Regions from separate parts of the Homo sapiens genome. Here regions 1 and 3 are each reported to be linked to region 2. Evidence: microRNA targets listed by miRTarBase, many of them from high-throughput screens and not tested one by one. Region 2 holds a microRNA gene; each other region holds the end of a gene's coding sequence. Distances are between the middles of the regions.
Evidence for each region. The annotated mature microRNA hsa-miR-6888-5p reads AAGGAGAUGCUCAGGCAGAU and lies in region 2 at 2,189-2,208, shown strand. An mRNA with a match to its seed (bases 2 to 7 or 8) in the 3' UTR can be bound and repressed. Matches are read on the target gene's strand: a 7mer-m8 pairs with bases 2 to 8, a 7mer-A1 pairs with bases 2 to 7 and ends in A, and an 8mer does both.

Region 1 (3,257 bases), 150 Mb from region 2:
TGGTGAACTTCGATTAGTTGCATGGATGGACATTTAAAGAGCTGTGCTGTCCCCTTCCCAAGCCATAAGGAGTGATTTAGCCATTCAACACTTAGTTAATATTTTGAGTTCAATTTCTCTCTTGGGATCTTACCTTGAGAGGTTTGAATCCTCTTTTGGGTCTTCAAATGGTAAGTAAGTTTTCAGGATGCTTGAAAGCTAGTAATTACTGTTTTTGCCATTAAAAGTAATGGCATTAATTACTTTTGCACCAACCTAGTATTTTTTAGTCACTTAGGTTGAGTGAGCCTCACCTAGCACTTTTTTCTTAGCATCACAGTGCCAACAGAATAAGAGGCTGTTTGATGGGTAAGGGTGGAGCTGTGAGGACCTCCGATTCATCTTTTATTCCTATCAATCAATTGAACCCATGTCTTTGCAGAACGTCGAAATGCTGAGCAGCATGGATTCTGCATCGGTTCGCATTATCAAACCCTTTCCTGCGCCCCAGACTCCAGGCCGCCTGCAGCCTGCCCCTGTGATCCCTTCGGCGCCAGCAGCTCCAAAACTGGACCACCAGAGAATGGACACCATCCAGGAAGACCCCAGCACAGACTCACATATGGACGAGGATGGGTTTGAGAAGGACCCCTTCCCAAATAGCAGCACAGCTGCCAAGTCATTTGAGGATCTCACGGACCATCCGGTCACCAGAAGTGAAAAGGCTGCCTCCTTTAAACTGCAGCGTCAGAATCGTGTTGACAGCAAAGAAACAGAGTGCTAATTTAGTTCTCAGCTCTTCTGACTTAAGTGTGCAAAATATTTTTATAGATTTGACCTACAAATCAATCACAGCTTGTATTTTGTGAAGACTGGGAAGTGACTTAGCAGATGCTGGTCATGTGTTTGAACTTCCTGCAGGTAAACAGTTCTTGTGTGGTTTGGCCCTTCTCCTTTTGAAAAGGTAAGGTGAAGGTGAATCTAGCTTATTTTGAGGCTTTCAGGTTTTAGTTTTTAAAATATCTTTTGACCTGTGGTGCAAAAGCAGAAAATACAGCTGGATTGGGTTATGAATATTTACGTTTTTGTAAATTAATCTTTTATATTGATAACAGCACTGACTAGGGAAATGATCAGTTTTTTTTTATACACTGTAATGAACCGCTGAATATGAGGCATTTGGCATTTATTTGTGATGACAACTGGAATAGTTTTTTTTTTTTTTTTTTTTTTTTGCCTTCAACTAAAAACAAAGGAGATAAATCTAGTATACATTGTCTCTAAATTGTGGGTCTATTTCTAGTTATTACCCAGAGTTTTTATGTAGCAGGGAAAATATATATCTAAATTTAGAAATCATTTGGGTTAATATGGCTCTTCATAATTCTAAGACTAATGCTCTCTAGAAACCTAACCACCTACCTTACAGTGAGGGCTATACATGGTAGCCAGTTGAATTTATGGAATCTACCAACTGTTTAGGGCCCTGATTTGCTGGGCAGTTTTTCTGTATTTTATAAGTATCTTCATGTATCCCTGTTACTGATAGGGATACATGCTCTTAGAAAATTCACTATTGGCTGGGAGTGGTGGCTCATGCCTGTAATCCCAGCACTTGGAGAGGCTGAGGTTGCGCCACTACACTCCAGCCTGGGTGACAGAGTGAGACTCTGCCTCAAAAAAAAAAAAAAAAAAAAAAAATTCACTATCTACAAACCTAGAATATTTAAAATACAAAGATTGCCTGTTTTCAAACACTATTGAATAAGAGGGTGAGATATTTCTTAACAACAACAACAACAAAAAAAACAGGTTGTTTTGAATGTGATGAGCCAGCCAGGAGATAGAATACTACCTGCCCTTAGGGTTGGGGGCTGTCCCCACAAGACTTGATACTTCAGAAACCCTTTTTATTGACCCACAAGCAGATATTTGAATTACTTCTTACTTTATTGCTCCAGGATTCTGGATGGGCTGCATTTACTGTGTGAAGGATAAAAATCATTAGCCTGGATTCTGATTTCTATAAATTGCCATTAAAAGCTTTTTTTCCCCTAAGAACTGAAATGTGCTCACCAGCCAAAACATTTTAACTTGTAAATTTTGAGGGCAGTTAACCAAACCTGTGACTAATCATATCTCCTCCTACCCCCCATTTCCAAGGACATTTGTTACTCAGATACTTGTTATACTAATACTTGAACTTGTACCTTATGGTATTTGCTATCTTTTAACTAGTCATGATATTCTTATACTTTAGTTACACTTTTGGAATTTGATACAAGGTTGAGTGGGGTGTGTGGGTGTATGTATGAGTGAAACAGTTCTCAAAAGAATGTAAGAAAAACCATTTTTATAAAATTGTGACTTTTTAAAAACATAGTCTTTGTCATTTATAGAATTAACAAGCTGCTCAGGGTATATTTTATAGCTGTAGCACTGATATCTGCATTAATAAATACTGTCGAAACACAATGGACCTAAGTATAAAACTTCCCTGAAAAATCATCTAATACTTTTATTATTAATATCAGTGGCAAAGGTTTAAGCCTGAGGAAAAAAGCGTACCTCTACGTATTGACAACTTTGAGTTCTGTAGATAACAAGCAGATTTGGGTCTCCTGTGATTGGCTAATGGTCTCCATCTCCCAGCAGACTTAATTCAGGTTTTGCTTCTGCTACATCCCGCCAGTAAGGAAGCAGCAAAGGTAGAGAAGAGACCTTTTTCTCTATCAAAGGCCAGAGATGCGAGAACAAAAATTCATTCCCCTTTGGAGACAAATGTAGTCCATCTGATAAATAAGATGAGAAGTCCTAGAAGGGAGAGAAATCGGTTAAAGGTGGGTAACTGGCCACGTGTGGTAGCTCACCCCTGTCATTCCAACACTTTGGGGCCGAGGATTACTGGAAGACAGGAGTTTGAGACCCTGTCTCTACAAAAAATTTTAAAAATACAAAAATTAGCTGGGTGTGGTGGCAAACACCTGTATTCCCACCTACTTGGGAGGCGAAGATGGGAGGATCACTTAAGCCCAGGAGTTGGAGGCTACAGTGAGGTATCATTGCACCACTGAGTTCCAGCCTGGGTGATAGACTGTCTCCCCCCACAGCGCGCGCGCGCGCGCGCACACACACACACACACACACACACACACACACACACACACACACAAAAAGGCCGGGGAGGGAGGGTATAACTTTTCTAAATGCCAGTGTGTACCATTCTCTCATTTGTGGCCCTGCGACAGAAATATCACCAGCCCCTTTCATTGTAGGCA
Region 2 (3,257 bases):
GGGCCTAGAGCACTAGAGAGATGCTGACAGCGGTTTCCATGGGAATAAGGGAGGAGGGGAATCCCAGGCTCAAGATCTGGGACATGGAAGGTGTTCAGGGAATGACAGGGCATGTGCTCGTGGGAAAACTTCAGGCCATTACAAGACAATGGACGAGACTCAGTGGGCAGTGTGGCCTTAAACGTCATGCCCTCCCCTGTAGTATAAAAACTGATTCCTTGGCCTCCATCTGCCTTGATTTCCTCATCTCTAACACGGTTTATAACCTATTTGAGAAGCAGGCATGCACCTGGAAAGACAAATGCAGTTTAAATAATGCATGCTTTTAATCATCTAGATTAGCAACTACTAGGAGGATGCGTTTTAAAACATATATAATGTTTATCTTTTCCTCCCTCCACAACTACCTGCTTTTCCCCAACCAAACAGCTCAAAGTTGACAGGATGATAGAAATGAAAGTAATTTACATTGCATAGAAGTCACTCCTATTGGAATAAGCAACTCTGTGTGTCATTTAGAAACTAATTGGCTCAAAGGCATGGGATCCACAGGAAGACAGAGTGAGTCCTATGGACATGGAGGGCAAATGGGCAGGATGGCCCTTTCACAAAAGGGAAATGGGCAGGAAAATAGGCAGGATGGTACCTTCACAAAAGGGAAATGGGTGCTGTTGGCTGGATGTCCACCATGTGCCAGCCACAGCAAACCCACTTAGATGCCTTAGCCTTCTTCTCACCACAAGGACTTGTGTGCCATCCAAGCCTAGAATTCTCTGCTTTCTTGATCATGAGCTGTCACCTAGCACGGCCTGGCTTTTCTCTCCTTCCCACGTGAGACCTTGTCCTTTGTCTACCCCTAGTGGTGGTGATCCTGAGGGGACCTGAAGGCTAGGCCCAGGGATGGTTCTGTGCTCTGTGTCTATTCATGCATGCATTCCAGAAACACATTTGAGTGTTCACCAAGTGCTCAGCACTTTGCTAGGCATTATGACTCAGATGAGACCCTTAGCCTCCCGGAGTTTACATCTTTGTCACGGGCATAAATCAGTGACTAAGGCAATGGGTGGTGAATTGAGGGTGGGTCTGCGGTGTGGTGGAATGGGCTCTTCTGCTGTGAGCCTTTGTATTCCTTCCCCTAGGAACGGGCACGCGCTCTTGGCATTCATGTTCTCGCGTCAGGAGGGCAAGTTGAACCGCCAGCAGACCATGGAGCTTGGCCACCACATCCTGAAGGCGCACATTTTCAAGGTGAGATGCACACCAACTTGGGGAAGGGTTTCTTTGTTGTCATTTTGAGGTTTTGCTTTGGAGATTTTAGACAGCTCTGTCAGCCATCCAAGAAACGCTCCATGCACCTCAGCCCAAATGCAACCTCCTCCTGCCTCCCCTCTCCAAAAGTAACCGCTGTTCTGACTCAGCCTGGGCATTTCCTTGCATTTTGCTATAGTTGATTGCTCAAGTGTATATCAGAGTGCTGTGCTTAAGTTTTACTTCTTTCCACCTTTAAATCTCTGATAAGTTTCTTTTTATCTAAAGGTTCCACTTTGTTCATTACTTTTTGTTTCCTTATTATTGATTTGTTCGAGAACCTGAGTTTCTTGACCTGTGTGATTTTGTACCACCTGGACTTTCTGACTGTGTTTGCCCAGGCTGGAGAGCAGTGGTGGGATCATAGCTTACTGGACTCAAGCCATCCTCCCGCCTCAGCCTCCCAAGTAACTGGGACTATAGGCACGCTCCACCTTGCAGGGCTCAGATGGTGATATTCTAATTCTGTCATTTATTCTTCCTCTAATTTACTTCCAACATGGTAAAACCTTGTCTCTACTAAAAATACAAAAATTAGCTGGGAGTGGTGGCATGTATCTGTAATCCCAGGTACTTGAGAGGCTGAGGGATGAGAATCACTTGAGCCTGGGAGGTGGAGGTTGAAGTGAGTTGAGATTGCACCACTGCACTTCCAGCCTGGGCGACACAGCAAGACTCTGACTCAAAGAGAAACTCTCATCTGCCATCTCTCTCCCAAGGCACAAAGTTAACCTAGTGAAGGCAGGCTGGTTCCTTGACCCTTGGTTTCAGGTAGTGAAAGCTCGCATGTCCAGGCATTCTTTGTGTGTGACCCCGTGCCTTCTGCAGGTATCTGCACCCTCTGCGGCAGACCCACTTTCAGAGTGACCCTGCAGGTGGGAAGGAGATGCTCAGGCAGATCTGTCTCTGATTGTTTCCAAGATCTGTCTCGATTGTTTCCAGGGCCTCAGTAAGAAGACGGGAATTTCTTCAAGCCATCTCCAAGCCCTGTGGATCGGCTACAGCACCGAGGGGCTGTCCGCCGCCCTGGCCTCTCTCAGGAATCTCTATACTCCCAACGTGAAGGTGAGCAACCTTCTGCACAGAGAGCCGGAGACCCAGCCCTGGCCGGCTGCTGGCCGTTCCTCCAACAGCCCTGTTTCCCTCTGCCCTGGGTGGTGGTGAGAGGACGCAGAGGAGCTTCTAAAGATGTGCTTCCCTGATCACACGGGCTTGGGTGCTGTATTACTCGTTCTTCCAGAAGTTTAGCTTTTCTTTGGCAGGAAGATGTGGGTGGTCAGGGCTGCTCTGAGCACATGTGGTGACTGTTTCACAGCAGATGTGATAAGGAAGCAATTTACAAAAGAAATCAAAGATCAGAGAGATTTCTAGGGAAAACGGATTTTTTAAGTGTCCTGCGTTACTAATCTGGACCATCTCTTCAGAGTTCATGGGAAATTAAGCATGGATGGGTGATGCATAGAGATAAGTACACAGAAAAACAAACATCGAGGTTTCATGTATCCATATTTCTGCCTATGGAAAGGGTATCAGCATGGCCTTCTGTGGAGCCAAGAGCTTCTTCACTTCTTGGTCAGTGGCTTTCATGTCATGATGTTCCACTCAGCTTTTTAAGGTAGATTTTTCTTCCTGATTTCATGTAGCCTGGGAATCTGAAGCACACAGAGGCCAAGCAGCCTGTTAAGGCCACAGAGACAGTGTCCAGGCCTTTCAGCTTCAGGCCCTGATGTACCCGGCTGCCTGTGGAAGCCCTGGGTCAGTTTAGGGAGCCAGGTCTTCCCCCCGAATCACTCACATTGTTTCATCTTTCATTTCAGCTAAGAGTGTATCTCTCGGCTTCTCCATAACTAATAAAATTCTATAATCATAAGAAAGATGAGAATAAAAATGGCAATATGTTTTCATATGTTAATGAATTTCTGGGCATAGAATTTATTTTAATATGGAAA
Region 3 (3,257 bases), not on the chromosome of region 2:
TTTACACTAATCTTTCATGTAAAGAAAGTACTGGAAGGCAGTGGAGGAAGAAACATTTGGGGAACAACTATTCCTCTTTTCTATTAAAAAAAAAAAAAAAAATCAAATCACTCCCCATCTCACATACCTGTCAAGAAATCAAACAGTGATGGTTAATGCCAAAGTAGTCCTTGCTCCTGACAGATTTTCAGAGGAAACCTTAGCTGCCCCTGCAACAGCTGTGCTGTGCTCCTCCGCCAGCTATGGAGTCATGAGCACCCGAACCCATTTCACAGGTGTCACAGATGTCAAATCTCTGGGGGGTCTACCCTCAGCCCCGGCTCCAACACAGCACAGCCCTATCTCCTGCCTCCAGTGTAGCCCTTCACCCCAATCCCACCACCTTCTCTTCCACAGAAAAGAGCCCCGATGCAATGTCCACATCTTCATATTTATTTCCACAGTGTTAACATGGAATAGACTTAGCAACCATTGCAGAGAAAAAAAAAATCTCTCATTGGTTTATGAGTTAAATCCTGTAACAATGAATTTCAACCATTCGAAGTCTTCTGCTGCTTAACATTTACTGAATCAAAGGCTGAAGTAAATGGACTCTCATCTAGGTCTCAGAAATCACACAGCTGGCCTCGTGATGTATTTACGATGGGATTTAACTTCTAATACAAGGCAAGTTTGACAGTTACAGCCAATGAAGTGCACGACTCTGTACATGGATTTCTTGACCTAACATTCAAAAGGACATTTCATAGTACTAGTTTAATTCTGATCTCTCTCTAGAAGGCAGAAACCACATCCCACACTCCTATGCAATTTGTTATTTTGGTATTGTAAAGTAAATGAATAAGAAGGGGTGGAGGCATAAAGAAAATCTAGTTTCTGGCTGGGCAGGGTGGTTCACGCTTGTAATCCCGCACTTTGGGAGGCCAAGGCGGGTGGATCACGAGGTCAGGAGATTGAGGATCATCCTGGCCAACATGGTGAAACCCCGTTTCTACTAAAAATACAAAAATTAGCCGGGCTTGGTGACATGCGCCTGTAGTCCTAGCTACTCGCGAGGCTGAGGCAGGGGAATCACTTGAACTGGGAGGTGGAGGTTGCAGTGAGCCAAGATCGCACCATTGCACTCCAGCCTGGGCAACAGGGTGAGACTCTGTCTCAAAAAAATAAAATAAAATAAAATAAAAACAAAGAAAAAAAAATAAAATCTTTAGGCATTCCCAGACACAAAGATCTCAGAGACAGACAACAGAGAGCCTCCGTGTTCATCTGCCCGAGGCTGTTTGTCACAGTTCCCTTAAAAGATGCCTGGAAATGCTCCCAACAACAAGGGACTCAAGTATGGGGCTGAGTTTGTTAAAAAAGCAGCTAAATGTGTTTAGGAAACACACGAAGTGAAACCAGACAGTGATGGCCCATGTACAAGACTTGTGCTTGAAGCTTTGGTGTGCCTCCATGGCCAATTTTTCAGGCACCAAAACCCATTCCTGATTAATTATTGATATACAATGCAAACCAAACTATGAAAACACAGACTTTTTTTCAGAAGAGGGAAATAAAGGCACAGAAACCTGCCAAAATAGATATTTTTTTCCATAAGAATAGTATGGTTGATTAAAATAGTTTATCACTAGTAAAACTTGTATCACTAGAGCAGACAATACAAATTAGTTTTTTAAAAAATGACATTCACTGAATTCTTGGTCTGTGCATTCAATGTGAATAATCATCAAAAATATATTACAATTAAAGGTTTGTAAGGAGCTCTGTCTGGGATTTCTGCAGTATATTATTTCGGAGGAGAAGAACCACCATAAAGTATGAGCTATCCACTGTTCCTTTTTATGTCATGTATGGTAATCAGTCTATCTCCTAATGCAGGCTCACAAACTTCCACGGTGAGATGTCTAAGTGACTTAGTGACCTTCACACTCATTAAAGGCAGCCCTGTCCATCAAACTCCATACCTAGAAAGTTCAATAAACTGTATTACATTTTAATAAATATTTCTGTGTACTTTTTGTTTTTTGCTTTTAAGCTCAGCTTAAATTTTGTCAAGGAAACCATTTCACAAGACAGTATGTCACAGCCTACTATCAGCAATAGTCCTTGTTTATTAGAATCTGCAGATGTCCATATTACATCAAATATAAATATATATTATATTTACATTTCCTTCTTAGCTTTCAATTTAGGTGAGTGTATTTATAGATAATGCCACTAACGCACCACTATTCTAATCCTCAGTGCAACTCATACCTTCTTTCCATTAGATGCTCATTAATGTAAGACAGCATCTTAAAAGAGGGGTACTGTTCTTTTTTAAAATAAAAGGAAAGAAAGGGAATCCAAGAATGGAGGTCTAGACATTTCCTAAGAGATTTTTGTTTTGTTTTTTATACTTAGAAATACTTGAAAAATGTGGTCCCTTTTTGTAGTACTAGTCTCTACTTGGGGACAAGAAAATAGAATATGCAACTCAGAAAGGAAAGAGCCCAAAGACGAGAGAACCTGCTTGTTAGCTCATTAACCTGTTTAGTAAAGATCTGCTTTAAAATGCCTGATGCTGTGCAGTATCATACAAAACAATCTTCAGCCTTCAAAGCAGCTGATGCACCTTCTCAGAGATCTGTTTGTCTGATTAACAGTCTGCTGCCTTGGTGGGCCTTGGTCTTGGTCACTTTCGGTCATCGATGGTTTTAATGAATTCTACTGCTGCTGTGAACTGCATCCACCAATAGGACTCCTCTCCAGACAGACAGCTAGCATAAAAGCTACTGATATACTGCACAGTAGACAGCAAACAGGGTGGATTTGCCTAGAGAAGTGAAAAATAAAAAAGAATCAATTACTCAGATGTCATAGCTCTGCCAAAATCATTTAAGTGTTCTTCGAATGTTCTTCTATGAAAGACATACCAATCCTTTTGAAAACAACCCCAAAGTTATTTTTTGGAAGTAATCTGTGAACCCTAGTTTCCATGAGTAGCAATAATATGCTGGAAAGGCAACCCAGGTTCTAATCTCAGCTAATCTATCTAGAGGTTTCTATCCTTGCAAGTCCTTAACCTCACTGATTTCTAAGAAGGCTGAACTAATCTCTGTGGTCTTACTCAACATCCCCGGATTTCAGAATGTTAGATAACAAAATAAATGCTGTAGGCAAATTGAGTTATATCTGGTAAGTCCAGGGAGAATAAGCTGAGAAAGAAAAAACTAAAAAAGATGACATGCCCTCTGTTGCCAGAGGTAACAGAGGAC

Region 1: miRTarBase lists IAH1 as a target of hsa-miR-6888-5p. Seed matches in the 3' UTR shown: 7mer-m8 at 1,818-1,824 and 7mer-m8 at 1,233-1,239.
Region 3: miRTarBase lists GAPVD1 as a target of hsa-miR-6888-5p. Seed matches in the 3' UTR shown: 7mer-m8 at 948-954.

The regions. Positions count from the first base shown.
Region 1 is chr2:9,487,683-9,490,939 of GRCh38, reverse strand. It overlaps IAH1 (isoamyl acetate hydrolyzing esterase 1 (putative)), which reads right to left. Exons shown (of 6, transcript NM_001039613.3): 6 at 1,198-2,793. The coding sequence ends at 2,611. It overlaps ADAM17 (ADAM metallopeptidase domain 17), which reads left to right. Exons shown (of 19, transcript NM_003183.6): 19 at 422-2,454. The coding sequence ends at 763. Among named protein-coding and RNA genes, the nearest start is that of IAH1, 15 kb to the right of the region's middle.
Region 2 is chr2:159,184,652-159,187,908 of GRCh38, forward strand. MIR6888 (microRNA 6888) reads left to right here and starts at 2,184; the gene lies at 2,184-2,250. It overlaps TANC1 (tetratricopeptide repeat, ankyrin repeat and coiled-coil containing 1), which reads left to right. Exons shown (of 27, transcript NM_033394.3): 15 at 1,140-1,248; 16 at 2,251-2,373. RefSeq lists an enhancer at 951-1,120 and a cis regulatory region at 1,036.
Region 3 is chr9:125,362,164-125,365,420 of GRCh38, reverse strand. GAPVD1 (GTPase activating protein and VPS9 domains 1) reads right to left here. Exons shown (of 28, transcript NM_001282680.3): 28 at 1-2,815. The coding sequence ends at 2,675. Among named protein-coding and RNA genes, the nearest start is that of GAPVD1, 100 kb to the right of the region's middle.